7 linked regions of the Homo sapiens genome follow. The protein of the gene in region 1 purifies or fractionates together with the protein of each later gene. This does not show direct contact. Each region holds a gene or a part of one and is shown in the gene's direction. Other genes may lie near its edges. The genes, in order: ASPSCR1, AGL, PEX7, ASAP1, UFD1, PLAA and YTHDF2.

What was found.
Region 2: the proteins of ASPSCR1 (region 1) and AGL fractionate together in Homo sapiens (co-fractionation; one large-scale study listed by BioGRID). This does not show direct contact.
Region 3: the proteins of ASPSCR1 (region 1) and PEX7 purify together in Homo sapiens (co-immunoprecipitation; one large-scale study listed by IntAct). This does not show direct contact.
Region 4: the proteins of ASPSCR1 (region 1) and ASAP1 fractionate together in Homo sapiens (co-fractionation; one large-scale study listed by BioGRID). This does not show direct contact.
Region 5: the proteins of ASPSCR1 (region 1) and UFD1 purify together in Homo sapiens (affinity purification with mass spectrometry, with the first as the bait; one study listed by BioGRID). This does not show direct contact.
Region 6: the proteins of ASPSCR1 (region 1) and PLAA purify together in Homo sapiens (co-immunoprecipitation; one large-scale study listed by IntAct). This does not show direct contact.
Region 7: the proteins of ASPSCR1 (region 1) and YTHDF2 fractionate together in Homo sapiens (co-fractionation; one large-scale study listed by BioGRID). This does not show direct contact.

What each region holds. Positions count from the first base shown.
Region 1 is NC_000017.11:81,984,129-81,987,628, forward strand, and holds part of ASPSCR1 (tether containing UBX domain for GLUT4), read left to right. Parts: intron 1-1,378; coding exon 1,379-1,479; intron 1,480-3,500. UniProt on the Homo sapiens protein: Tethering protein that sequesters GLUT4-containing vesicles in the cytoplasm in the absence of insulin. Modulates the amount of GLUT4 that is available at the cell surface. Enhances VCP methylation catalyzed by VCPKMT.
Region 2 is NC_000001.11:99,853,361-99,856,860, forward strand, and holds part of AGL (glycogen debranching enzyme), read left to right. Parts: intron 1-3,500. UniProt on the Homo sapiens protein: Multifunctional enzyme acting as 1,4-alpha-D-glucan:1,4-alpha-D-glucan 4-alpha-D-glycosyltransferase and amylo-1,6-glucosidase in glycogen degradation.
Region 3 is NC_000006.12:136,867,592-136,871,091, forward strand, and holds part of PEX7 (peroxisomal biogenesis factor 7), read left to right. Parts: intron 1-2,298; coding exon 2,299-2,412; intron 2,413-3,500. UniProt on the Homo sapiens protein: Receptor required for the peroxisomal import of proteins containing a C-terminal PTS2-type peroxisomal targeting signal. Specifically binds to cargo proteins containing a PTS2 peroxisomal targeting signal in the cytosol.
Region 4 is NC_000008.11:130,059,175-130,062,674, reverse strand, and holds part of ASAP1 (arf-GAP with SH3 domain, ANK repeat and PH domain-containing protein 1), read left to right. Parts: intron 1-1,605; coding exon 1,606-2,096; intron 2,097-3,500. UniProt on the Homo sapiens protein: Possesses phosphatidylinositol 4,5-bisphosphate-dependent GTPase-activating protein activity for ARF1 (ADP ribosylation factor 1) and ARF5 and a lesser activity towards ARF6.
Region 5 is NC_000022.11:19,465,694-19,469,193, reverse strand, and holds part of UFD1 (ubiquitin recognition factor in ER-associated degradation protein 1), read left to right. Parts: intron 1-1,190; coding exon 1,191-1,321; intron 1,322-3,500. UniProt on the Homo sapiens protein: Essential component of the ubiquitin-dependent proteolytic pathway which degrades ubiquitin fusion proteins.
Region 6 is NC_000009.12:26,919,743-26,923,242, reverse strand, and holds part of PLAA (phospholipase A-2-activating protein), read left to right. Parts: coding exon 1-65; intron 66-2,858; coding exon 2,859-3,016; intron 3,017-3,500. UniProt on the Homo sapiens protein: Plays a role in protein ubiquitination, sorting and degradation through its association with VCP. Involved in ubiquitin-mediated membrane proteins trafficking to late endosomes in an ESCRT-dependent manner, and hence plays a role in synaptic vesicle recycling.
Region 7 is NC_000001.11:28,764,440-28,767,939, forward strand, and holds part of YTHDF2 (YTH domain-containing family protein 2), read left to right. Parts: intron 1-3,500. UniProt on the Homo sapiens protein: Specifically recognizes and binds N6-methyladenosine (m6A)-containing RNAs, and regulates their stability. M6A is a modification present at internal sites of mRNAs and some non-coding RNAs and plays a role in mRNA stability and processing.

The sequences.
Region 1 (3,500 bases):
TGCAGGCGTGAGCCTCTGCGCCCCGCCCACGTCATTCTTCATGTGGAAGTTTTTCTTTCTTTCTGGGGTCAGTTGTGCCTTCCCTGGCTCAGGGTGTCAGCAGCATTCACCCACCAGCCTGACCACCTGCTCATAGAATTGCCCAGAATGTTAGAGCCGAAAGCGCTGCATGGATGCCGCAAGGGCAGCCTGTAATCCCAGCACTTTAGGAGGCCGAGGCGGGCAGATCACCTGAGGTCAGGAGTTTGGGACCAGCCGGCCAACATAATGAAACCCCGTCTCTACTAAAAATACAAAAATTAGCCGTGGGTGGTGGCGGATGCCTGTAGTCCCAGCTACTCAGCAGGCTGAGGCAGGAGAATGGCGTGAACCCGGGAGGCGGAGCTTGCAGTGAGCCGAGATTGTGCTGCCACTGCACTCCAGCCTGGGCGACAGAGTGAGACTTTGTCTCAAAAAAAAAAAAAAGAGCAGCAAACATTTACCATCTCATGTGGCTTCTGAGGGTCAGGAATCTGGGAGCAGCTTAGCTCAGTGTCTGTCCTGAGGCTGCAGTCAGGTTCGGTGGAGCTGCAATCTTTTGAAGCCCCCACTGGGACACGAGGACTGTCTCCAACACAGTTCACTCCTGTGGCGCCTGCATGTACCCACACACACCCACACACACCCCCACACACCCACATACCCGCACACCCGTACACACCCCCACACACCCCTGCACACACCCCACACACACCTGCACACCCCCGCACACACACCCCCCACACACACCCACACACACCCCTACAGCAACGTGCACACACCCCCACACCCGCACACACCCGCACACACCCCACACACCTGCACACACCCACACACCTGCGTGCACACCCCCCCACACACCTGCACACACCGCCCACACCAACATGCACACACCTCCCCCCCACACACACCCACGCACACACCTGTACACACACACCTACACATCTGCGCACATACCCGCACACACCTGCATGTAAACATGCACACACACGCACATCTGCACGCACATGCGCACACCTGCACACACCCACACACCAACATGCACACATCCACACACATACCTGCACACAACTGCACACCCCCGCACACACCCACACACACATATGCACACACGCACGCACACCTGCACATACCTGCACACTCACATGCACACACGCATGCTGGTGCAGCCCTGCCGGGGAGCCTCCAAGGCCCTCACTCCAGAGTGAATAGGAGGGTAGCCTTCTCCGTGGGGGTCAGCCTCTCCCTGGAGGCCAGGGCGGGGCAGTCACCCTCTCTGTGTCTGGAGAATCAGTCTGGGATTTAGAAGGAATAGTTGCTTTTCTTCCTAAGGAAGTTTCTCATGTCTTATACCCTCCAGGTTCGCATCGCTTTGCAGCTGGACGATGGCTCGAGGTTGCAGGACTCTTTCTGTTCAGGCCAGACCCTCTGGGAGCTTCTCAGCCATTTTCCACAGATCAGGTGAGCATCAGTGGGCTGGGGGCTCTTCCCTACCCTGTTTGCTGGGGAAGCTGCTGTGGTTACTGGGTCTGGTTCAGAGCTGGACACCCAAGCTCTGTGCTGGCCTGTGGTGCCTCTTGGCACTTTGCAGTCCTTTGTAGAGGAGGGGTGTGTGGGCTGCCGGTTCATGAGCAGCAGCCTCGGGGATGGCTGGTCACAGCTCATCGTTCTGAGTTTCCTGGGCCCAGCGGCCCAGCCTTGCCCACCTAGAAGAGCAGGAATGTGCTTCTGTCCTTGTGGGGGCCTGGTGAGCACTAAGGGGAGACGTTCGGTGCTGGGGGCAGGGCTCCCCATGCTTGATTCCCCTGGATGGGATCATAAGGTCTCTTTTTTTTAAGAGGCAGGGTCTCACTATGTTGGTCACCTAGGCTGCTCTTGAACCCATGGGCTCAAGAAATTCTCCCATCTCAGCCTCCCAAAGCGTTGAGATTACAGGTGTGAGCTCCTGTGCCCCACCAGAAAATCTTCCTAATAGTAATTGGATGGCTGGGCACAGTGGCTGGGCACAGTGGCTGGGCAAAGTGGCTTGCACTTTGGAAGGCCGAGGCTGGCGAATCGCTTGAGCTCATGAGTTCAAGACTAGCCTCGGCAACATAGTGAAACCCCTTCTCTACAAAAAATAGAAATGTTAGGCCAGGCATAGTGCATGGTGGTGCGTGCCTGTGGTCCCAGCTATGCCAGAGGCTGAGGTGGGAGGATCACTTGAGCCGTGGAGGCAGTTGCAGTGAGCCGAGATCGCACTGCTGCACTCCAGCCTGGGCAACAGAACGAGACTCTGTCTCAAAAAAATAAATAAATAAAAATAAGTAATTGATGTGTATCAGTTTCTGTCGGTTAATGGTTTAAACGTTGTTCCTGAATGTGTAAAAATTGGTGCTTTGTCAATTTGGGTCTTTTCATCGTTGGCTGGAAGTCTCTGTCCACAGTAAAAGGCTCAGCAGAATGGAAGGGACTTGGGGCTGGGGTTTGCTGTGAGCCAGGGGGTTCTCGCCCTCCCCGGGCCTCAGTTTCCTCACCTGTGCCCCGGCTGGTGTGTGGATGGGGTGAGTTCATGTCTTGAGGACCGAGCATAGGGCCTGTGGGAAGGTGACCGCGCGTCGGGCGCTGGGAAGGTGACTGTGCGTTGGGCGCGCTTGGTGGCCCCAGGGCTGGGCCTGCTCCCGTCTGACAGTAGTGCCGCGCTGCATGGCACGGGTGTTGCGTTCGTGGGTGAGAGCGCTGAGGTCTGCACGTCGGGTCTCAGTGGTCATGGGGATGGAAGCCACCCCAGTGGCTGTCGGGGTGAATGGAGGCCCCTGGAGATGGCAGCGGGTTAAGCACGAGCACGGAATTCTCCCTCCCAAAACGGAACTCAGACAACAGTGACGGAGCCTAAGAGCAAAGCCAAAGCCACGGGCAGGGGTGAGCGGGACCCGAGGCAGGAGATGACGGAGCCTAAGAGCAAAGCGAAGCCACGGGCAGGGGTGAGCGGGACCCGAGGCAGGAGGTGACAGAGCCTAAGAGCAAAGCGAAGCCACGGGCAGGGGTGAGCGGGACCCGAGGCAGGAGATGACGGAGCCTGAGAGCAAAGCGAAGCCACGGGCAGGGGTGAGCGGGACCCGAGCCAGGAGTGGCGCCGGGCAGGGAGGCAGGCAGCCCCAGGCGCTGTGTGGGCACTGGGTGAGAAGCAGGGATCCCGGCGCCCTGGCTCTGTGCTGCTTCCTGAGACGAGAGTGGCAGAGGGCAAGAAGAAAACCAAACAGCGCGGGGAACAGAAGTCAGGAAAGATGAACGTCTGGAAGGAAATGCCCCTGGGCCGGGCGGTGCCCCCGGGCGTGAACAGAATCCAGTGCTCCCACAGGCACAGGTGCTTGGTGAGGGCCGTCCTCCCTGGCTGTGCTGTCAGTCCTCAGATGGGGATGGAGGTAAGGAAATGGCCCAGAGTGGCCTGGGGCTGCCACTGGGGAGGGGCCGAGGGTGTCTGGAGAGGTGGGGCCGGCATT
Region 2 (3,500 bases), on another chromosome or scaffold:
TCCCATCAGATTCCTTTATATCTGTTAAATCTCATTTACTGTCAGTCTATGTGTTGCCTAAGTTTCAACTTTCAGCTAGAATATCACCTCCTTTGTGAAGTCTTTCCCTAATTTTTCACTGTCTGCTTCCTTTGATTTCCAATTACACAATGAGCACAGAACTATTAAGTGCTGAATAATGAAGCAGTGTCTAAAGGCTTGTTAGTCTTACAGTGTCAGACTAGGGTTTAAAATCTGTGAGAATTGATGAGGGCAGGTGACTCACACTTGTAATCTCAGTGCTTTGGGAGGCTGAGGCTGGAGGACCACTTGAGGCCAGGAGTTCATGGTCAGCCTGGACAACATAGTAAGACTTTATCTCCACAAAAAAGAAACAAAATTAGCTGGGCATGATGGTGCTTGCCTGTGGTCCCCAGCTACCTAGGAGGTTGAGGCTGGAGGATCTCTTGAGCCCAGGAGTTAAAGGCTGTAGTGAGCTATGATCCCACCATTGCACTCCAGCCTGGGTGACAGAGTGAGACCCTGTCTTTAAAAAACAAAAATAAAGGGCCGGGCGCAGTGGCTCACACCTATAATCCCAGCACTTTGGGAGGCCGAGGCATGTGGGTCACCCCAGGTCAGGATTTTGAGACCATCCAGCCTGATCAACATGGTGAAACCCCTTCTCTACTAAAAATACAAAAATTAGCCAGGCGTGGTGGCGCATGCCTATAATCCCAGCTACCTGGGAGGCTGAGGCAGGAGAATCGCTTGAACCTGGGATGCAGAGGTTGCAGTGAGCTGAGATCACACCATTGCACTCCAGCCTGGGCAACAAGAGCAAAACTCTATCTTAAAAAAAAATAAAAAATAAAATAAAATCTGTGAGGATAGGGACAGCCTTACAAACTTAGTGCAGTGTACTGCTGATTGATTACTAGAACTCTAGTTAAAACTAGCAAAAATTGTAAAAGCTAACCTATTTGAAGAGGGAAATTGAAGGATTTATGAAAAAAGAATGATGTGGTTGACTTTATAACTCTGGTTAAAACCGGTAAATGTATCCAAATGTTATAAATGAGAATGTGCCACCTTTTTTTGCAGTAATGGTGTGATCATTTTGTTTTAGAAGATAATTTGAAGCCGGGTGCGGTGGCTCACGCCTGTAATCCTAGCACTTTGGGAGGCCGAGGCGGGCGGATCACGAGGTCAGGAGATCGAGACTATCCTGGCTAACATAGTGAAACCCCGTCTCTACTAAAAATACAAAAAAAATTAGCCGGGCCTGGTGGCGGGCGCCTCTAGTCCCAGCTACTCGGGAGGCTGAGGCAGGAGAAAGGCGTGAACCCAGGAGGCGGAGCTTGCAGTGAGCTGAGATTGCGCCACTGCACTCCAGCCTGGGTGACAGAGCAAGATGCCGTCTCAAAAAAAAAAAAAAAGATAATTTGAAATGTGAAAGATGAGTGGAAGAGTGGTAGAGAAGGGACATTGGAGACAAGAAGCATTGAGAAGGCTATTTTAAAAACACATCTGATTAAAGAAAAGGATTGAACAGCCTGAGTTGAAAAAGAGAGGACAAGGCCAGGCGCGGTGGCTCACACCTGTAATCTTGGCACTTTGGGAGGCCAAGGCAGGCGGATCACCTGAGTTCAGGAGTTTGAGACCTGCCTGGCCAACATGGTGAAACCCTGTCTCTCCTAAAAATATAAAAATTAGCCAGGCGTGCTGGCGGGTGCCTGTAATCCCAGCTACTTGGGAGGCTGAGGCAGGAGAATTGCTTGAATCCAGGATGCGGAGGTTTCAGTAAGCCAAGATCGTGCCAATGCACTCCAGCCCGGGCAACAGAGCGAGACTCCGACTCAAAAAAAAAGAAAAAAGAAAAAGAGAGGACAAAGTATGAGTTATTTTCAAGTTCAGAGGACTTGGTAACCAATCAAATGTGAGGAAAAACTCTGGCAGTTTTTGGCTGTTTCATATTTAATTGGTCATCAAAGCCCTCATATTTCTTTCCTTCTCTCTTTTCTACAAGAAGGAATTCCTCCTCGTTTTTAAGACTGATATTTCTATAGATTCTTCCAGTTCAACAAGTACAAGAATAAATAATGATCTTTTCTAGACAAATCATAGCTTTTTCGCTTATTTCCTATCTCATTTAGTGGTAGAATAATGAATAAAATCAGGCCGAGCACGGTGGCTTACTCCTGTAATCCCGGCACTTTGGGAGGCCGAGGCGGGTAGTTGACCTGAGATCAGGAGTTCAAGACCAGCCTGGCCAACATGGTGAAACCCCATCTCTACCAAAAATACAAAAATTAGCCAGATGTGGTGACATGCACCTGTAGTCCCAGCTATTCAGGAGGCTAAGGCAGGAGAATCGCTTGAACCCAGGAGGCAGAGGTTGCAGTGAGCCAAGATCACACCACTGTACTCCAGCCTGGGCAACAGAGCGAGACTCGGTCTCAAAAAAAAAAAAGAATAATGAACAAAATAAGTACTTCCCAAATCTGAAATTCTTCCATCTTTTAAGTAGGTTGATGAAATTTATAATTTTTACTATTTTTTAAAGAAAATATTTAGACATAAAGGTTCTTTGATTAGAAGACTGAGTTTCTATAAATTGAGTGGAGGGGAAAAGATAGAACATATTTATTTACAATAATAGTTTAATCACTCATTATGCTAGTTGCCTACAAGAGAGACATGGCTAATGCAAGTTAAGTATCCTAGCATTAGTATGAGGAATAAGATAGCCACACCATGTACTGCTATGACCTCAGCTAATTTTAGCAAACTGAGTCATGGAATCTGACCTACTGTAGGCTCTCTGATGTTTCATTTACTGTATATAAAAATTTTAGTTTCAGTGATTTGCATTAGAGGTCTACAGAGTGGCTATGTATCCCTTGGGGTATGCGCTGATATATCTATTGGGCTACAGAAAGAAAATATAACATCCCTTCCTTCCTTCCTCCCTCCCTCCCTTCCTTCCTCCCTCCCTCCCTCCCTCCCTCCCTCCCTCCCTCCCTTCCTTCCTCCCTTCCTCCCTCCCTCCCTCCTTCCTTCTTTCCTTCCTTCTTCCCTTTCTTTTCTTTTCTTGTATTTATTTATTTATTTATTTATTTTTATTGATCATTCTTGGGTGTTTCTCGCAGAGGGGGATTTGGCAGGGTCATAAGACAATAGTGGAGGGAAGGTCAGCAGATAAACAAGTGAACAGAGGTCTCTGGTTTTCCTAGGCAAAGGACCCTGCGGCCTTCCACAGTGTTTGTGTCCCTGGGTACTTGAGATTAGGGAGTGGTGATGACTCTTAGGGAGCATGCTGCCTCCAAGCATCTGTTTAACAAAGCACATCTTGCACCACCCTTAATCCATTTAACCCTGAGTGAACACAGCACATGTTTCAGAGAGCACAGGGTTGGGGGTAAGGTCATAGATCAACAGCATCCCAAGGCAGAATTTTTCTTAGTACAGAACAAAATAGAGTCTCCCATGTCTACTTCTTTCTACACAGACACAGCAAC
Region 3 (3,500 bases), on another chromosome or scaffold:
TTTAAGTTTTGTTATTATGAAGAGTCAAAAAGTAAAAAAAGCCAGGCATGGTGGCAGGCGCCTGTAGTCCCAGCTACTCGGGAGGCTGAGGCAGGGGAATCGCTTGAACTGGGAGGCAGAGGCTGCAGTGAGCCAAGATCACGCCACTGCACTCCAGCCTGGCAACAGAGCAAGACTCCATCTCAAAACAACAACAACAACAACAACAAAAAACTTTAAAAAAAATTAGAAAGTTTATGAAGCAAAAAATTACAGTGAGCTAAGGTTAATTTATTATTGAAGAAAGGAAATAAAAAATAAATTTAGTGTACAGTAATGTTCTAGGCCTTTCCATTCACTCACTACTCATTCACTCACTGACTCACCCAGAGTAATTTCCAGTTTTGTAAGCTCCATTCATGGTAAGGACCCTACTACCATTTTTTATCTTCCATACTATATTTTTACTATACCTTTTCTATGTTTAGATACAGAAAGCCTTACAATTGTGTTACAGTAGCCTACAGTATTCAGTACAGTAACATGCTGGACAGGCATGTAGCCTAGGAGCAATAGGCTGTTTCATCTAGCCTGGGTGTGTACTAGGCTGTACCACCTAGGTTTGTGTAAGTACACTCTGTGATGTTCACGCAAAGATGAAATTGCCTAATGCCACATTTCTGAGAGCATATCCCCATCATTAAGTGATGCATGACTGTATTTATGTCCCTGAAGTGGTCTGTTGACCGTGACAAATAGGTAAAATGTATGCTTTGTTTTTTTCCCAGTTTTAAATTAATTAAAGTTAAAAGAACATTGTATTGGCAGAGTTCTTTAAATAAAAATAAGTAAAATAAGTTAAAATATAGTATATATACAATGATATTACTCAATCTAAACATTTCAATGCTGATGACTATAGTTTCAAACTCATAAATGAATGTTTCATATTGGAAAATTAATTATGGCCTGTATGTTAGATGTTTGGGAACTCTAAAGAAAGATGCTGATAGACATTTGAGAGTGATTTACAAAAATTATTTTCTAATAACTGAAACTTTTCTTCAAATTAGCTTAAACTAAAGCCCAACATAGTCAGACAATGTTAGGTTGGTGCAAGAGTAGTTGCAGTTTTTGCCATTACTTTCAATGGCAAAAACTGCAACTACTTTTGCGCCAACTTAAATCCATTGCTGTTCTGAGTTATGTGGGGTGGACTGAGTGTGGACCCAGCACTTGTCCTATTCAGCCAGGACCTCTGGGTTCACTTGGGGCTCTAGATAGCAGAATTTGTAAAGCCGGAATAGATAAGAGACTCACCACTATTTGATTACATTCTTGGATATGATTAGATATCGTATTAAGAATTTTGGTCCAAGAGAGTTGGAAACAATGATTAATTTAGATTTAGAGAACATGGAAAAATTTAATTCATAGCCTTTGCTTTTTCAGATGTGCCTAAATGAACAGACCTCTTGCCTTTTAATGCCTGGAAAAACCTCAGAGTATGTTGAAACCCTTTTTGTTTGTTTGTTTTTTAGAGATGAGGTCTCACTGTTGCCCAGGCTGGTCTCAAACTCCTGGGCTCAAGTGATCCACCGGCCTTGGCCTCCCAAAGTGCTGGGATTATAGGAGTGAACCACCGCACCCAGCCTTGAAAACCTTTTTTAAATTTTTATTTTTTTTTTAGAGACAGGGTCTCGCTGTGTCATCCAGGCTGAGGTACAGTGGGGTGATCATACCACACTGTAGCCTCTGACTCTTGGGCTCACACAATCCTCCTGCCTCACTCAGCCTCTCAAGTAGCTAAAATTACAGGTGTGTGTTACCACGCCTGGCTAATTTTTTGGGTAGACAGGGTCTTGCTTTATTGTCCATGCTGGTCTCAAGTTCCTGGCCTCAAGTGATCCTCCCACCTTTGCCTCCCAAGGTGCTGGAATTCCAGGGAAAACCTTTTGAAGAGAAAGCTGGGCTCATTTGTCAGATAAAATTTTTAATCCCCTATGTATTTACTGCCGCTTCTAAAGCTGAATTAGAAAATCCACAATGCTGTTTGGAACTATGCCTTTTCCAGCTGTCTGTAGTGTTCCATCGTGTACATAAAGCATATTGAGTTCTTTTTCTCACAAGTCATATTAGTTTTTTGCTATTAATGTCTATGTTGATTCCTGTCTATACTTGTTATACAACTTCTCAAAAATGACTCCTTGGTTCATATTAAATAGTTATCAGAAAGCAGATGTTGTTTCTAGTAGGAAAGCCTGCATACTGTTTAATTGCAAAGATGTCACAGTTTATGTTTCTCTGAATTGTTTTTAGAATTTGCTGGTGACCGGGGCGGTTGACTGTAGTTTGAGAGGCTGGGACTTAAGGAATGTACGACAACCAGTGTTTGAACTTCTTGGTCATACCTATGCTATTAGGAGGGTGAAAGTAAGTTTTCATCTTTTCTTTTATATGTAGAATAAAATTATATAAATATAATCAATGAAGTGTATATTAAAAAGTGTTCTGGGTTTAGGGATTGGAGTTACTAATTCTTTTTTATATGTGTTTTTGTTACCCAATTAATTAGTAGTGAAAGCTAAAATTAGGCAAAAATATTTGAATAATGATTGAATGAATTTGGGCAATGTAGACATTCAATACTTAAGGTTAAATAAAAATCTTTTTCTCATTCTTTCACCTCCAATCTGTTTTTCCTTTAATATATTTTTTTAACTATAGTAATTCACTTTTAGTATTATGTTCTTTATAAGTTTCTAATTAGCGAGAGTCTCTACTTTGTTGAAACAGATGTAAAGAGATGGTTAATTCTTTCTTTTTCCTAACATGATAACATACATGACTGTTCACAGATGTTTGGGATATAGAAAGTTTTCTACTCTGTGAACAGCAGAGGATGAGGTAAATTTTTAATGATGGTCTCAGTAAATTTATCTGGGTTATAAGATGACTTAGGTTGGTTTCCTGGCTTTTATATTTAGGCAGGTTCTGCTAAATGACTGTGGAAAACATCTTATTAAGTGACATCTCCCAATTTCATCCTTTTGTTTTTTTACGTTAAGGATAAAAAAGTACCTTATTGATTATTTTAATAAGGTAATTATGTTATTCCTACTATTTAAAAAATTCTAAATTTTTTTTTCTTTTTTTTTGAGATGGAGTCTTGCCCTGTCACCCAGACACGATCTCAGCTCACTGCAACCTCTGCCTTCTGGGTTCAAGCTGTTCTCCTGCCTCAGCCTACTGAGTAGCTGGGACTACAGGTGTGCACCACCATGCCCGGCTAATTTTTTTGTATTTTTAGTGGAGACAGGGTTTCACAGTGTTGGCCAGGCTGGTCTTGAACTCCTGACCTCAAGTGATCTGCCTGCCTTAGCCTTCCACAGTGCTGGGATTACAGGCTGAGTCACTGTGCCTGGCCAAAAATTCTAAATTTTTAGTTAAGTTAATATTTTAAGTTTCTCTGGCTGCAATGCAACATAGGAGACACAGTGCTCTGTTTTATTTTTTAATAA
Region 4 (3,500 bases), on another chromosome or scaffold:
GGTGAAGAGGGTGGGGTATTTTGAAGGTTTTCCATGCCTGGCACTTAGAGTTTCTCTTGCCCCATCAGTGTGACTCACAGCCAAGGCCTTTCTAGCCCCACCACCTCAGGGATTCCCCCTAGCTTTTTCCCTCTTGACTGCCTGGCTCAGATTGTTTCTTAGCCAATTTCAGACTTCCAAGAGAGGAACGAGATTCATGTAAATTAACTTTTAGAGCCAAGCCACCTCAGCAGAAGCTTAGGGACCAGCCTGTGAGCAGGGTGCCCCTTGATTTTGACTTTTTTAGAGATATGACTAGACAGGTCATGAGCAGAAACAGCCCTAGTACAGCCTGTGACATTTACAACATGAGGTTTATCTGTTTCTTCTCCTTCTTTAAGAATGTCTTTCTGAATACGTTATATTTTTAGGATCAAATTCCTAATGTGAGTCACTCAGTGTGCCTTAGTCAGCTGTTTCCTCCCTGAGTGCAGGCTATGTCCTTGGCCCTTGTGCCAGGAGCCAAAGTTACAAAAATGAGTAAAACAGGAATGTAATACTGTAATAGGGCCTTAAAGAACCCTAACAGTGATGGTAGTACTACTGCATAATGCTTACAGCCTGCCAGGGCTTGTCAGTAAATTCTTTGCATATATTAACCCATGTAATCTGCATGCCAACCCTTTGAAGTAGGGTTTTAAGAGATCAGTAAATTGCAGCATAGAGAGGTTGTGTAATTTGCCCAAATTCACACAGCTAGTAAGTGGTGGAGCTAAAATTGGAGACATGTCCATAGTTTTCTAAGTACCAAGAGCTGTACAAAGAGCTATGGAAATGGGTCAACAAATTGATACATTTCCTAAGCTGTGCATACTGTGCAGCCATTAAACAGAATAAAAAAGAACTGATTTGGAGCTTTCCTAAACATAGTAAGTGGGAGAAAAGCAAAGTTTCAGACTATGTATCCCTTGTATGGTTTTTAAAAGACATAGCACACGCGTGTGTATCACCAAAATGTAACAGAGGTTAACCCGAGACAGGGGCACAAAGTAGAAGAAGCCTTTTGCTACCTCGCTTATATACTGCATGAATCATGTAAAATGGGGAGAAATAATAATAAATTATGATACAGCTATAGAATGGAATAGAATGCACCATTCAAAATTACATACAACTAGTAAATAATTTTTAATAACATGACAAATACTGTTGCTAAAATGGTATTAGATAAAAGCAAGTAAAAGTTATATCTATAGAAAATATATAGGAAAATTAAAAGGAACTATATAAAAGAATTTTAAATGGCTACATTTAGGTGTTAGGCTTAAGAACTCTGTACTTTCCGATTCTCTGCAATCTGTTTCTATTTATTTTTTTTAATTCTGGATGAATGTAGACATCCTGTTCTTATATAATTGAAGCATAAAATCATGAATTGTAACACTTTCCAGGCTTTCAAACTTTGTCTTTGTAAAACTGCCTGGGTGGGCCTGGCCCCTGAGTTCATCCATTTCAAGTGCTCACTATAGGTCAGTTCCCTTCATGATGATGGTGCCTCTTTTAGGTGACTGACAGGAAAGCAGCCCTTCCCACCAATGACCTCCTTGTTTTTGATTGCTTCCACAGTGGCACTAAGGAAAACAGATCATCTCTCCCTAGACAAAGCCACCATCCCGCCCGAAATCTTTCAGAAATCATCACAGTTGGCAGAGTTGCCACAAAAGCCACCACCTGGAGACCTGCCCCCAAAGCCCACAGAACTGGCCCCCAAGCCCCAAATTGGAGATTTGCCGCCTAAGCCAGGAGAACTGCCCCCCAAACCACAGCTGGGGGACCTGCCACCCAAACCCCAACTCTCAGACTTACCTCCCAAACCACAGATGAAGGACCTGCCCCCCAAACCACAGCTGGGAGACCTGCTAGCAAAATCCCAGACTGGAGATGTCTCACCCAAGGCTCAGCAACCCTCTGAGGTCACACTGAAGTCACACCCATTGGATCTATCCCCAAATGTGCAGTCCAGAGACGCCATCCAAAAGCAAGCATCTGAAGACTCCAACGACCTCACGCCTACTCTGCCAGAGACGCCCGTACCACTGCCCAGAAAAATCAATACGGTGGGTGGGACAATGTTCAGGCCCTTAGGAACCCTATTCCGCACTTTGCAAGTTGGTGGGAGGGCAGGTGCTCCAACTTACACAAGAAAAAGTGAGAGCTTGCTCACCTGACCCTTATGTGCTCTGGTTCAAGCATGATGGTGGATTAGAGCCTGTGGGTTACAAACCCAGGCTTTAGGCTCCAGCAGACAGGCTTCAAGACCTGGCTTCAGTGCCTGACATAACTGCACAACCTTGGCAAGTTACTTTCTCTGAGTCTTACTTTCTTCACATACAAAAAGGAGCTAATACAATATTTGAGCTCACAGATGATTAAATACAGTGACAAATGAGCAGCACTTGGCTGGCACCTAGACCACTGAGCAAGTAGTCACTATTACCTAGGAACCTTGAGGATGAAACTTTTCCTTTCCTGAGGGTCACGAGAAACCAATTTCCCTCTCGGGGTTCTGGGTATTTTCTCTCTCTCTCTATTTTTTTTTTTTTTTTTTTTTTTTTTTTTTGAGAAGGGCTCGCTCTGTCGCCCAGGCTGGAGTGCAGTGGTGCGATCACAGCTCACTGCAGCCTCAGTCTCCTAGGCTCAGGTGATCCTCTTACCTCAGCCTCCTGAGTAGCTGGGACCAAGGTACATATCACTACGCCTGGCTTTTTTTTAATATTTTTGGTAGAGATGGGGTTTTGCCATGTTGCCCAGGCTGGTCTTGAACTCATGGGCTCAAGCACTCCTCCCATCTTGGCCTCTCAAAGTGCTGGGATTACAGGCGTGAGCCACTGCACCTGGCTCCCTGAGTTGCTAAGTCAGACTTTCTCGCTGCATCTTCCTAAAGGAATTGGAGATAAAGCTCTCGATATAATAGAATAGCATAGAATTTTGTAGAAATCTCATATTCTGTCATTTTCATGAAATGTTTCCTACTCTATATCCAGAAGTTCTCCCATTGCACATGGCAGCTCTACCTGCCTCACATTCTGTTATAAAATGTTACAGTACCCAGCACTTTGGGAAGAGGCGAGTGGATCGCTTGAGGCCAGGAGTTCAGGGCTGCTGTGATCACACCACTACACTCCAGCCTGGGTAACAGAGCAAGACCCTGTCTCAAAAAAATTAAAATGGGGCTGGGTGCAGTGGCTCACATCTGTAATTTCAGCACTTTGGGAGGCCAAAGTGCGAGGTTCCCTTGAGCCCAGGATTCATGACCAGCCTGGGCAACATACAGAGAAACCGTCTCTATAAAAAATAAAAATTAATTAGCTGGGCATGGTGGTACATGCCTGCGATCCCAGCTACTTGGGAGGCTAAGGCGGGAAGATTGCTTGAGCCCTGGAGATCGAGGCTGCAGTGAGCGTAATCATGCCACTGCACTCTAGCCTGGGCAACAGAGTGAAACCCCGTCTCAAAAAAAA
Region 5 (3,500 bases), on another chromosome or scaffold:
CCTGGGGATGCCAGACCCCCGTTACCAAAGCCAGTCACCTCTGCATCCTTCTGTGCCTGCCTGTGGCATTTGGTAGAGTGACCACCCTCTATTTCTGCCCTTACTAGCCTGACAAGCAGCTGTCAGCGTGAGTGCATGGGGTCCTCTGCAAGCCTATCCATAGGGCCCACCACTCAGGCTTCACTCATGGCCTAGGCACGGCTTCCCAGGCACAGCCTCGGCCTCAGCATGCCTCTCCCTCCTCATGAGCTCCCTCTCATTTGTGACACAGCCCTCAGCCCCCTTTTCCCTTGGCTGTTAAAGTCACCTTCTCACTGCCACTCCCGATGAAACATTCTTGAAGGGATGTGATACCTGGGATTTGCTTCAGGGCATCTAATGTGGCTTGGGACTGGGTGTGAGGTAGTGCTGATCGATGGACTGAGCCACGACGTGAGCACTGTCCAACTGTCAGGGCTCGGTGCGTGGGAGCTCTCTTCTACGGCTCTTTCTACTGATGTATATGTCTGACACCCCTTTTAAGACGGTTTCAAATAAGACAAGCAAAATTTCATTGCAAGAGACATAGAGCTTCTGACCTGAGTCTGGACTCCCTGCACACCCAGTACTCATGGGCATTGTTTATCTCTTTCCGTCTCACTTCTCAGCCGTCGTCTACCTGGCTGGGTTGTTTAATAGAGACATGTGGAGGCTTTGTCAGATTTTTATAACCTCCTTAGCAGAGACCTCTGGGGTCTGTCACCATCTTGCAGCCTCAGCTGTGGTGGGCCATTCCATTGCCAGGTCAGCCTTGCCTTGTGCTGCTTTTGTCCTACCTCAGGTGCAGCCCTACTTGACGCAGGGCCTTATAATTTGCTTGTGGGACAGCTTGGAAGTACAGTGAGTGACTATTCCAGGAAAATGCTCTGCCCCTGGGAAGCCTGGAGCTAGTGAGTAATCCGGGCAGCCCTGCAGAGATGCGTTCACACTGTGAGCTATACAGCTTCAGTAGCACCCCTTTATTGGCCTTCTTCCTTCCACATCACTTGATTTTTCCCTCCTTCCTGACATAGTATCACGAATTACTTATCTTGGCTCAGGTTCCTCTTCCAAGGACCCAAGTAAGACGGGCCTGCCCAGTGTATAGGGAGCAGTGGTTGTGGAGGCTGCTTCATCTCTAGGAGTCTCATGTAGCCTCTTCTTCCTTTCAGATGATGCAGAACTTACTCTTGGAAGAAGGCGGCCTGGTCCAGGTGGAGAGCGTCAACCTTCAAGTGGCCACCTACTCCAAATTCCAACCTCAGAGCCCTGACTTCCTGGACATCACCAACCCCAAAGCCGTGTATCTTTTTCAAATAAGCGGAGTTCTTCTAGACAAAGGAGAGTGTGCTGGCGGTTGTTAAACATCATGTACTGTATTGAATCTGTGCCTGCTTTGGGGATCACACATTTGTGATTCAAGTTGTGATTTGAGAATAATGGGGTTCAGCTAGCACATCTGCGTGGCCCTGGCCAAGTGCACTGGGTGCTGTCTGGGCCACCTCTGTCACTTTCCAGACACTTCATGGAGACCACAATGAAGCCCTTCTTTCAGTTGGTCTGTGTCACCTGGCACAAAGCCAGGATGCACAGTATGTCCAGTGGAAGGAGGGAGCAGCTTATCTGCCTTCAGCTCCAGCCCCTTCTGTGGCTCCCTAGTACCTCCGCCCAGCTGTGCACTGGCCCGTCAACCTCACTGCATGCCAGCCTGAGAGCTGATTCACTCCAGGCCAATAGGTAGCAATGACTGCAGTTTCTATGTCACCAAGCAGAAAGCAAAGGTATCAGGTTCTAGTGGATTCTTTTTGTTCACCTCTGAACTTAAGCCAGGTGTATGTGTTGACAGCATCAGGAAGTAGGCAGTGCAGGTACGGGACGGTGCTGTGTGCACCAATCAAGATCTCTAGCTCCATGGCCCTGATTTTTCCTGTTACGATCATGGCATAAGAGTGGCCACTCCATTCTACTTCTTTTTTTTTATTTTTTTTTAATGCATACTTGAAAAAAAAAACAAACAGTCAAACAACACAGACAGATAGGAAGTTAAGAAAAGCTGCCTCCTTTCCCAGTAGCGCTCTCTCCGCATGTTTTCTTAGGAGCAAGGCACTGCTGGGTGTGCTCTGGATGCATATGGGCCATGTATATTCTTTGCTGCCTATGTTCTGGACACGATGGCCTTGTTGAGCCTCCTGTCCCACAGGCAGGGGGATGTCCTATGGGAAGAGCTAGTTAACTTGTCCTTCAGAGCTCTGACCTAGACATGCTTGTTTGGCTGTCAGTGACCAGGAATGGGCCATGCCCATTTTCTCAGGGTTTTTACATGTGTTGCAATGCAGACTTTTTTTTGAGACGGAGTCTCACTCTGCTGCTCAGGTTGGAGTGCAGTGGCACGGTCTCAGCTCACTGCAAACTCTGCCTCCCAGATTCAAGTGATTCTCCTGCCTCAGCCTCCTGAGTAGCTGGGATTACAGGTGTGCACCACCACACCCGGCTAATTTTTGTATTTTTAGTAGAGACGGAGTTTCACCATGTTGCCTAAGCTGGTCTCGAACTCCTGACCTCAGGTGCTCCACCTGCCTCAGCCTCCCAAAGTGCTGGGATTACGTGCATGAGCCACCGCGCCCTGCCCCAATGCAGACTTATCAGGTTGATCTCAGATGCTGTTTTGTCAGCACAATTAACTTGTTAGTGTGTGGAGAAAGGGCGTCACTTCCATCAGTTGAGAGCCTGGTGTTTTCTGGTCTGGCTGAGGTCTGGATGAAAGCAGTCTTGGCACCGAGCAGAGAAAGTGGGAAGCTGGTGCTGCAGCAGGTGCCAGAGTACGCAGAGGCCATATGGGGAGCCCGCCCTGCCTGCAGAGGCCTCGTGTTCTCAGCCTGAGGGCTCTGGCTCTGCTCCTCCAGCTGCTGCAGTGGAAGTCAGAGAAGATGCCCTGGCAGGGTCACTAGAGGAGTGGAGGGAAGGGCACTTCGTACCGTGGCACTTCATATTTGGGAGCAAAGAAAGCATCCACCACATAAGGCGCTTTTCACAAAGTTGCTCTGGTTCTGGAAAGCTGTTTGACCAAGCGAGGTGAACCTAGATAGCCTCACCCTTTCACCCTCAAGTTGGACTCACAGTGGCAGGCTCTGGAGCCACATTTCATGTGACCTTTTTATGTAAAGTCCTTCAGCAAATTGATGAGGAAGACATGGCAAAATATTCCACATGAATAGACATTTCCTTGTGTGGGCATTTGGGTTCTACAGTTTTACTGTTATAAAAAGTATTTGCTGGTTTCTTTATTTTAATTTCTATTAACTAAAGTTATCAGCTCAAAAGATAGAAACAACAGAAGTATAAATGAAAGCATCTTTGATTTTGAGGAACTTTTGAGAGGACCTATCTGACTCATTAAATCTTTTTTGTTCTTTAGTACTCCCACAGGATTTTTTAAAATCCCATGGTATAATTTGTATACAATAAAATGCACACAGTTCAGC
Region 6 (3,500 bases), on another chromosome or scaffold:
AACTGGCGATTTAGGGGACATCAATGCTGAGCAGCTTCCTGGGAGGGAACATCTTAATGAACCTGGTAAGTATTTTATTGTACCTAGTAGAAAAAATTCACCATATTTGGCTTTTGGAACAATTAGAAGAAAAATAAATGTTGTTTTGCTTGTGTTTTTCATTGCTAGATGCTGATTTTTGAGGATTTTTACTATTACATATAATCACTATGAGAAACCATGTTCTTGCCTCTGTCTCACAGAAGACTTTGAATTAAGCTTCTCATAAACAGGAATTAAAAAATAAATCTCCCAACACTTAGATCATTTACAGTAGACACTCAAAAGGCACTCATTTAATACTTTTTGGTTGATTGGATTCTCTGAGAGGGGTTACAAACTGAATATTAAAATGAGTTTAAATACGAAATTAGCCAGGTGTGATGGCATGCGCTTGTAGTCCCAGCTACTCAGGAGGCTGAGGTGGGAGGATGGTTTGAGCCCAGAAGGTTGAGGCTGCGGTGAGCCGACACCACACCATTGCATTCCAGCCTGGGTGACAGAGTGTGACTCTGTCTCAAAAAAAAAAAAAAATGAGTTAAAATCAAGCATTGTCTGTGTAATGAGTTGGGAATCATTCGAGTTTGAAATCAGAAGACCGTAGTCATCTCAAATGAAATCTTGGGTTGGATGTATCTCTTGATTGCATTATTATACCAGTGCTTCTCAAAGCTTGATTCATGGACCTCTGGGGATTCTGAGATCCTTTCAGGATGTCCATGAGGTCAAAACTAATTTTTGTAATACTAGATATTATTTGAATGTTGTACATTGTATTAATGTTTGCACTTATGGTGCAAAAACAATGGTGGGTAAAACCACTGGTTCACTAGTATGTAAATCAAGCCAGGGGCTTTAAACCATTCTGGTAAGTTACTATGTTCTACTTGCATGCAGTTGTAGTTTAAAAAAAAAAAACAATAAAAACAAAAAAAAACAGTTTGCCATTAAGCATGTCCTTGATGAGGTATTAATATTAAGAATTATCAGTTTTATTACATTTTGACACATCTTTTTAAATATTCCGGGTGAGAAAACCTAAAGTAGACATAAAGTAAGTCAAAATACTGTGGTGTCTCAAAGAAAAGAACATGCGCAGTCATTTGAGTTGCAGGCTAAACTACCAGTTTTTTCATGGAGTGCTATTTTTATTTGAAAGAATGACTACGGTTATTCAGGCTTTGGTATTTGGCAGACGTTTTTTGAAAATGAACAAATTGAGCATGTTCCGTCAAGGAAAATAACTGATAATATATGTTGCCAAAGATAAAATTCAAGTGTTTGAGTGAAAATTGAAATGTAGGAAAAATGTATCTCCACCAGGAACTTAGTAGCTTCCCATTTGTATTGATACTAGTGGTAATAACATTAACAAATGCCATTTTTTAATATTGAATAATAAACTGTATGAATATGCAGAAGATCTGCGTAAGTTATTGAACCATTATTTTCCATATGACTAGTATCTGATACCATCTCAGACATGGGTAAAAGATCCATTCAAAGTACAAGATAGACCAGTGGATTTTAGTATAATAGAGCATGAAAAATTCATTGATGTGGTTTCAGATTGTACACTGTAGCGTTTAAAAAACTAGTATTTCTGGCCTATCCACATTTTCTGAAAAGACTTGTCTTCTCTTTTTCAACTACCTACGTGTGTTAGGCTGGATTTTCTTTTTGTAGTCAACCAAAATAACAAATTGAAACAGATTAAGATGGGGTAAGAGGGGAGATTAAAGTATGATGGACTAGGCCAGAACTGGCATATATCACATCCACCCAGATTCCACTGACCATTACTCAGTAATGTGACATCATGTGACTGCCCAATGCAAGGGGACTAGATAATGTAGTCTCTGGCTAGACAACTACAGCTGTATCTAATGGAAGAAGAGCATGATTCTTCGGAGGATGGATAGCTGTCTCCGCCACTGAAGGCCTTGTTGAGAACATGACATTTGTGTAAAGTTGTTAAAGAGGGAAAGGAGCAAATACTGCCAATATCTGTGTGAAGAGCATCATAGGCAGAATAAACAGCTAATACAAAGGCTCTGTGGCTGAAGTTGGGAGATGAGGGGACAGGGGGAATAGTAGAAAGTAAGGTCATGTAGGATAGTGTGGACAATTTATATTTGGTCTTGTACACTACTCAAGAGTTTAGGCTTTTACCAAGTGAGATGAAAAGCATTGATGGGTTTCAAGCAGAAGAGTGTCAGGACCTACTTAAACTTTTGAAAAAATTCCTGAAGTTGCTGGGTGGAATATACACTGTCGGGGGCCAAGAGTACAGGAAAGAGGCCGTTGAATCAACCCAACTGAGAAATGATGGTGGCTTGGACCAAGGGATGATGATGGAGATATTAAGGAGACAGTTTTCTAGATATATTTTAAAGAATGAGCTGATAGCAGTAGCTGAAGGGGGTGCTGAGAAGTAGCCGAAGGAGCGATGGGGTTGAGAGAAAGGTATCAGGCTTTTCTACTTTTCAGTTTGAGCCACTGGATTAATGGAGAGCCATTTACGGAATGAAATGTGTTAGGAAGATATATTCACTAATAAAACTTGTTTTATTTTTGATGGGCCAGTTGCTTCCTAGTAGAATCACGTTTTGTTAACCTTCCTTTGATTAATAATATTTCCTTTTAACTGTTATTTTCTTTTGGCCACATTTTTAAATCTTTTATTTGATACAATTTTATTTTGAAACAAAATCCATATTCTCTTATGTGTAAATTTTAATGTTAAGAATTTTCTATTTAAATGTTTTTCAATTTTACATTGCCATTCTACCTTTGATTCTTAAAATTTTTATTTTAAGGTACTAGAGAAGGACAGACTCGTCTAATCAGAGATGGGGAGAAAGTCGAAGCCTATCAGTGGAGTGTTAGTGAAGGGAGGTGGATAAAAATTGGTGATGTTGTTGGCTCATCTGGTGCTAATCAGCAAACATCTGGAAAAGTTTTATATGAAGGGAAAGTATGTCGACTTCTACTTTCTAATTACTATTGTCTTAAATATTAGGCAAATTAAAGGTTTCCTTTGCCCCATAGTGATAAAATTTCCTTTGTTTTGACATTTAAAAATCCATTACTGTGGGAAACTAATCTTTTTTTTCCCTGTCTTGAAATAGATATTTTAAAAGTATCTTTCCATGTAGTGAGAGCTGCATTTGAGAGACAAATTAGCAATTGTCTGTCATGTAGTAGTTTCTATACAAAAGCTGTTCCCAGCCATTTTGGATTGGGAGCTTCTGTGCCACCTTTCATCAAATGCCTCATGCCTGGCTATATTTAACTTGACAAGACATGAGAGACCCTGCAGGGCAGTGCTTAAAATGCCAGCACGTTTTGGTGAGTAGGGCACAGTAACAGCTGATAATTTTGATCTTGATATCAAACCAGTTGGAAACTCTGCTTTGGCTCTAGAGTTAATATGTAGTTGTAATCCATCCTTCATCCTC
Region 7 (3,500 bases), on another chromosome or scaffold:
TTTTTTTTGTTTTTTTTAGTAGTGGGGGTTTCACCATCTTGCCCAGGCTGATCTTGAACTCCTGACCTCGTGATCCACCCACCTCGGCCTCTCAAAGTGCTGGGATTACAGGCGTGAGCCATCGTGCCCGGCCCCAATTTTTTATTTTTAGTAGAGATGGGGTTTTGCCATGTTGGCCATGCTGGTCTTGAACTCCTGACCTCGTGATCCACCCACCTCGGCCTCCCAAAGTGCTGGGATTACAGGCGTGGGCCATCGTGCCTGGCCTCAATTTTTTATTTTTAGTAGAGATGGGGTTTTGCCATGTTGGCCATGCTGGTCTCGAACTCCTGACCTCAGGTGATCCCACCTTCCTCGGCCTCCTAGAGTGCTAGGATTACTCGGGTGATCCACCGTGCCAGGCCTTAATGTTTTTTTGTTTTTTGTTTTTTGTTTTTTTTTTAAGATGAGGTCTCGCTATGTTCTCTAGGCTGAAGTGCAGTGACTATTCACAGCTGTGATCATAGTTCATTACAGACTCAAATTCCTGGGCTCAGATGATCCTCTTGCTTCAGCCTCCCAAGTAGCTAGGACTGAACAAGGTGTAAGGCCCTCTGTTCCTGGTTTAAATTTATCTTCACCTGTTACCCAGGCTGGAGTGCAGTGGTGCAATCTCGGCTCACTGCATCCTCCTGCCTTCAGCCTCCCCAGCAGCTGGGACTATAGGTGTGTGCCAGCATGCTGGCTAATATTTGTATTTTTTTTGTAGAGACGGGGTTTTGCCACCTTGCCCAGGCTGGTCTCGAACTCTGGCCTTAAGTGATCCACCTGCCTCGGCCTCAAAGTACTGAGATTACAGACATGAGCCACCACACCCAGCCTGTAATTATATAAACATTAAAGTGTTATTAAGTGTTAAATATAACTTAGTGCACCTAACTTTTTTGCAGAAGAAATAAATTCATTTCTTCCCTTCCCCCCAGTTTTATGTTTTGAAATACATTTTTAAAAAAAGTTTTGAGAGACAGGGCCTCTGTCACCCAGGCTGCCAGGCTAGAATGTAGCGGTGGCATCATAGCTCACTGTAACCTCTAACTCCTGGGTTCAAGCTGTCCTCCCACCTCAGCCTTCCAAGTAGCTAATCCAAGTAGCTAGGATTACAGGCACGCACCACCACACCCAGCTAAGTTAAATTTGTTGTTGTTGTTGTTGTTGTAGAGACAGGGTCTCACTATGTTGCCCAAGGCTGGTCTTGAACTCCTGGCCTCAAGCACGTCCCCTGCCTCAGCCTTCTAAAGTGTGAGTGGCAGATGTGAGCTACCATGCTGGGCCTTGGAATAATTTCAGATTTACTCTTCCACATTTTGCCACATTTGCTTTATCATTTGAATGTTTTTAAAATGTGTATATATAATGTTTTCCTGAGCCAGAGAGTTACAGTCTAGACATCATGTCTTTTCTCCTAGGTATTTTAGTGTGTAGTTCCCAAGAACAAAGACATGCAGTTACATAACCACAGTGCATTTATCAAAATCAGGAAATTTAATTGACACAATGTTGTTACCCACAGATCTTATTCAGACTTTATCAGTTGTCTTAATGTCCTTGATAGCAATTTTTTTGTGGTCCAAGTTCTAGTCCACGAACATTTGGAGACCGTGGTTTCATGTCTCCTAAGTTGTTATTTGTTGTTTTCATTGTTTTGAGATAGGGTCTCATTCTGTTGCCTAGGCCAGAGTGCAGTGGCACGATCATGGCTCACTGCTGCCTTCATCTCCCCGGGCTTAAGTGATTTCCCAGGTTGCTGGGACTACAGGTGCATGCCACCACACCCAGATAATTTTGTGTGTGTGTATGTGTGTATGTATGTATTTGTAATGTAAGACAAGGGCTTTGCCAGGTTGCCCAGGCTGGTCTTGAACTCCTGTGCTCAAGCTATCTGCCAGCTTCCGCCTCCCAGAGTGCTGGGATTACAGGAGTGAGCTATTGCGCCCAGCCCTCCTAAGTCTGTCTTCACTGGTTTCAAGTCTGTCTTCACTGGTTTCAAGTGAGGTTGTATCCTTCTCAGTGCATCATACTGGGAGGTACAAGATGTCTGTTTATGCCATTACTGATAATGTTAACTTTGGTCACTTTGGGTAAAGTGTTGTCCACCAGGTTCTCCACTTAATTTTTTTTTTAATACGTGGGAAAATAGTTGACACTATGTAAATAACTTGTTTCTCATCAAACTGTCTCCTTTTAATTCTAGCATTGATAATTCTTGCTTGATTCAGGTATTACTATGATAGGTGTTTACTTACCATTAATATTACGTAATGCTCAAGTCACAGATTTGGCCAGTGGGAGGTCCTTCAAGAAGGAGCCTACTGATGCCCTGGCTTCCCACTCTGTTTCCAATCTATACTTTTCCTTCTCTTTTTTTTTTTTTAATGATGGGGTCTCATTTTGTCACCCAGGCTGGAGTACAGTGGTGTGATCAGGGCTCACTACAGCCTTGACCTCCTGTGCTTAAGCCATCCTCCCAGCTCACCCCCCAAGTAGCTGGGACCACAGGCACATGCCACCACCATGCCTAATTAAAAGATTTTTTTTTTTTTTTTTGTAGAGACAGTGTCTCCATATGTTGGCCAGGCTGGTCTTGAACTCCTGGCCTCAAGCAGTCTTATCTGCCTTGGCCTCCCAAAGTGTTGGGATTACAGGTGTGAGCCACCACTTCTGGCTGTTTTGGTATTGTTGTGTTAAAATTGAGAAAGTTTGACTTTTGAAGCAATATTGAACATAGGTATTTGTGAGACTTAAAATTGCACATTATAAAGAGGAACAAATTTGGTGTTTAAAGAATGAGACAGTGCTGTAGTAAATATAATTGCATGATGCTGTTTTGAATTTTTTCTTGACTATTTTAAATGCTATTAAGTATGCCAACTAACTTAAATATAAACATGTTTCTTAGGAAAAAGGACATCTATAGTCTAAGTTTCTAATTCAGTGTTACAATTTGGGACAAATAATTTATTGTCTGTATTTCTGGAGTTACATTAAGAGATAATAGGTGGAATTTCATTTTATTTATTTTTATTTTATTTATTTATTTATTTATTTTTTGAGATAGAGTCTCGCTTTGTCGCCCAGGCTGGAGTGCAGTGGCACGATCTCGGCTCACTGCAAGCTCCGCCTTCCGGGTTCACGCCATTCTCCTGCCTGAGCCTCCTGAGTAGCTGAGATTACAGGTGCCTACCACCACGCCTGGCTAATTTTTTGTATTTTTAGTAGAGATGGGGTTTCACCGTGTTAGCCGGGATGGTCTCGATCTCCTGACCTCGTGATCCGCCCGCCTCGGCCTCCCAAAGTGCTGGGACTACAGGCGCGTGCCACCACGCCAGCTAATTTTTGTATTTTTAGTAGAGACGGGGTTTCACCATGTTGGCCAGGATGTCTCACTCTCTTGACCTCATGATCCACCTGCCTTGGTAAAAATGTAAAATTTAAAAAATTCTGAGGCCGGGCGCGGTGGCTCA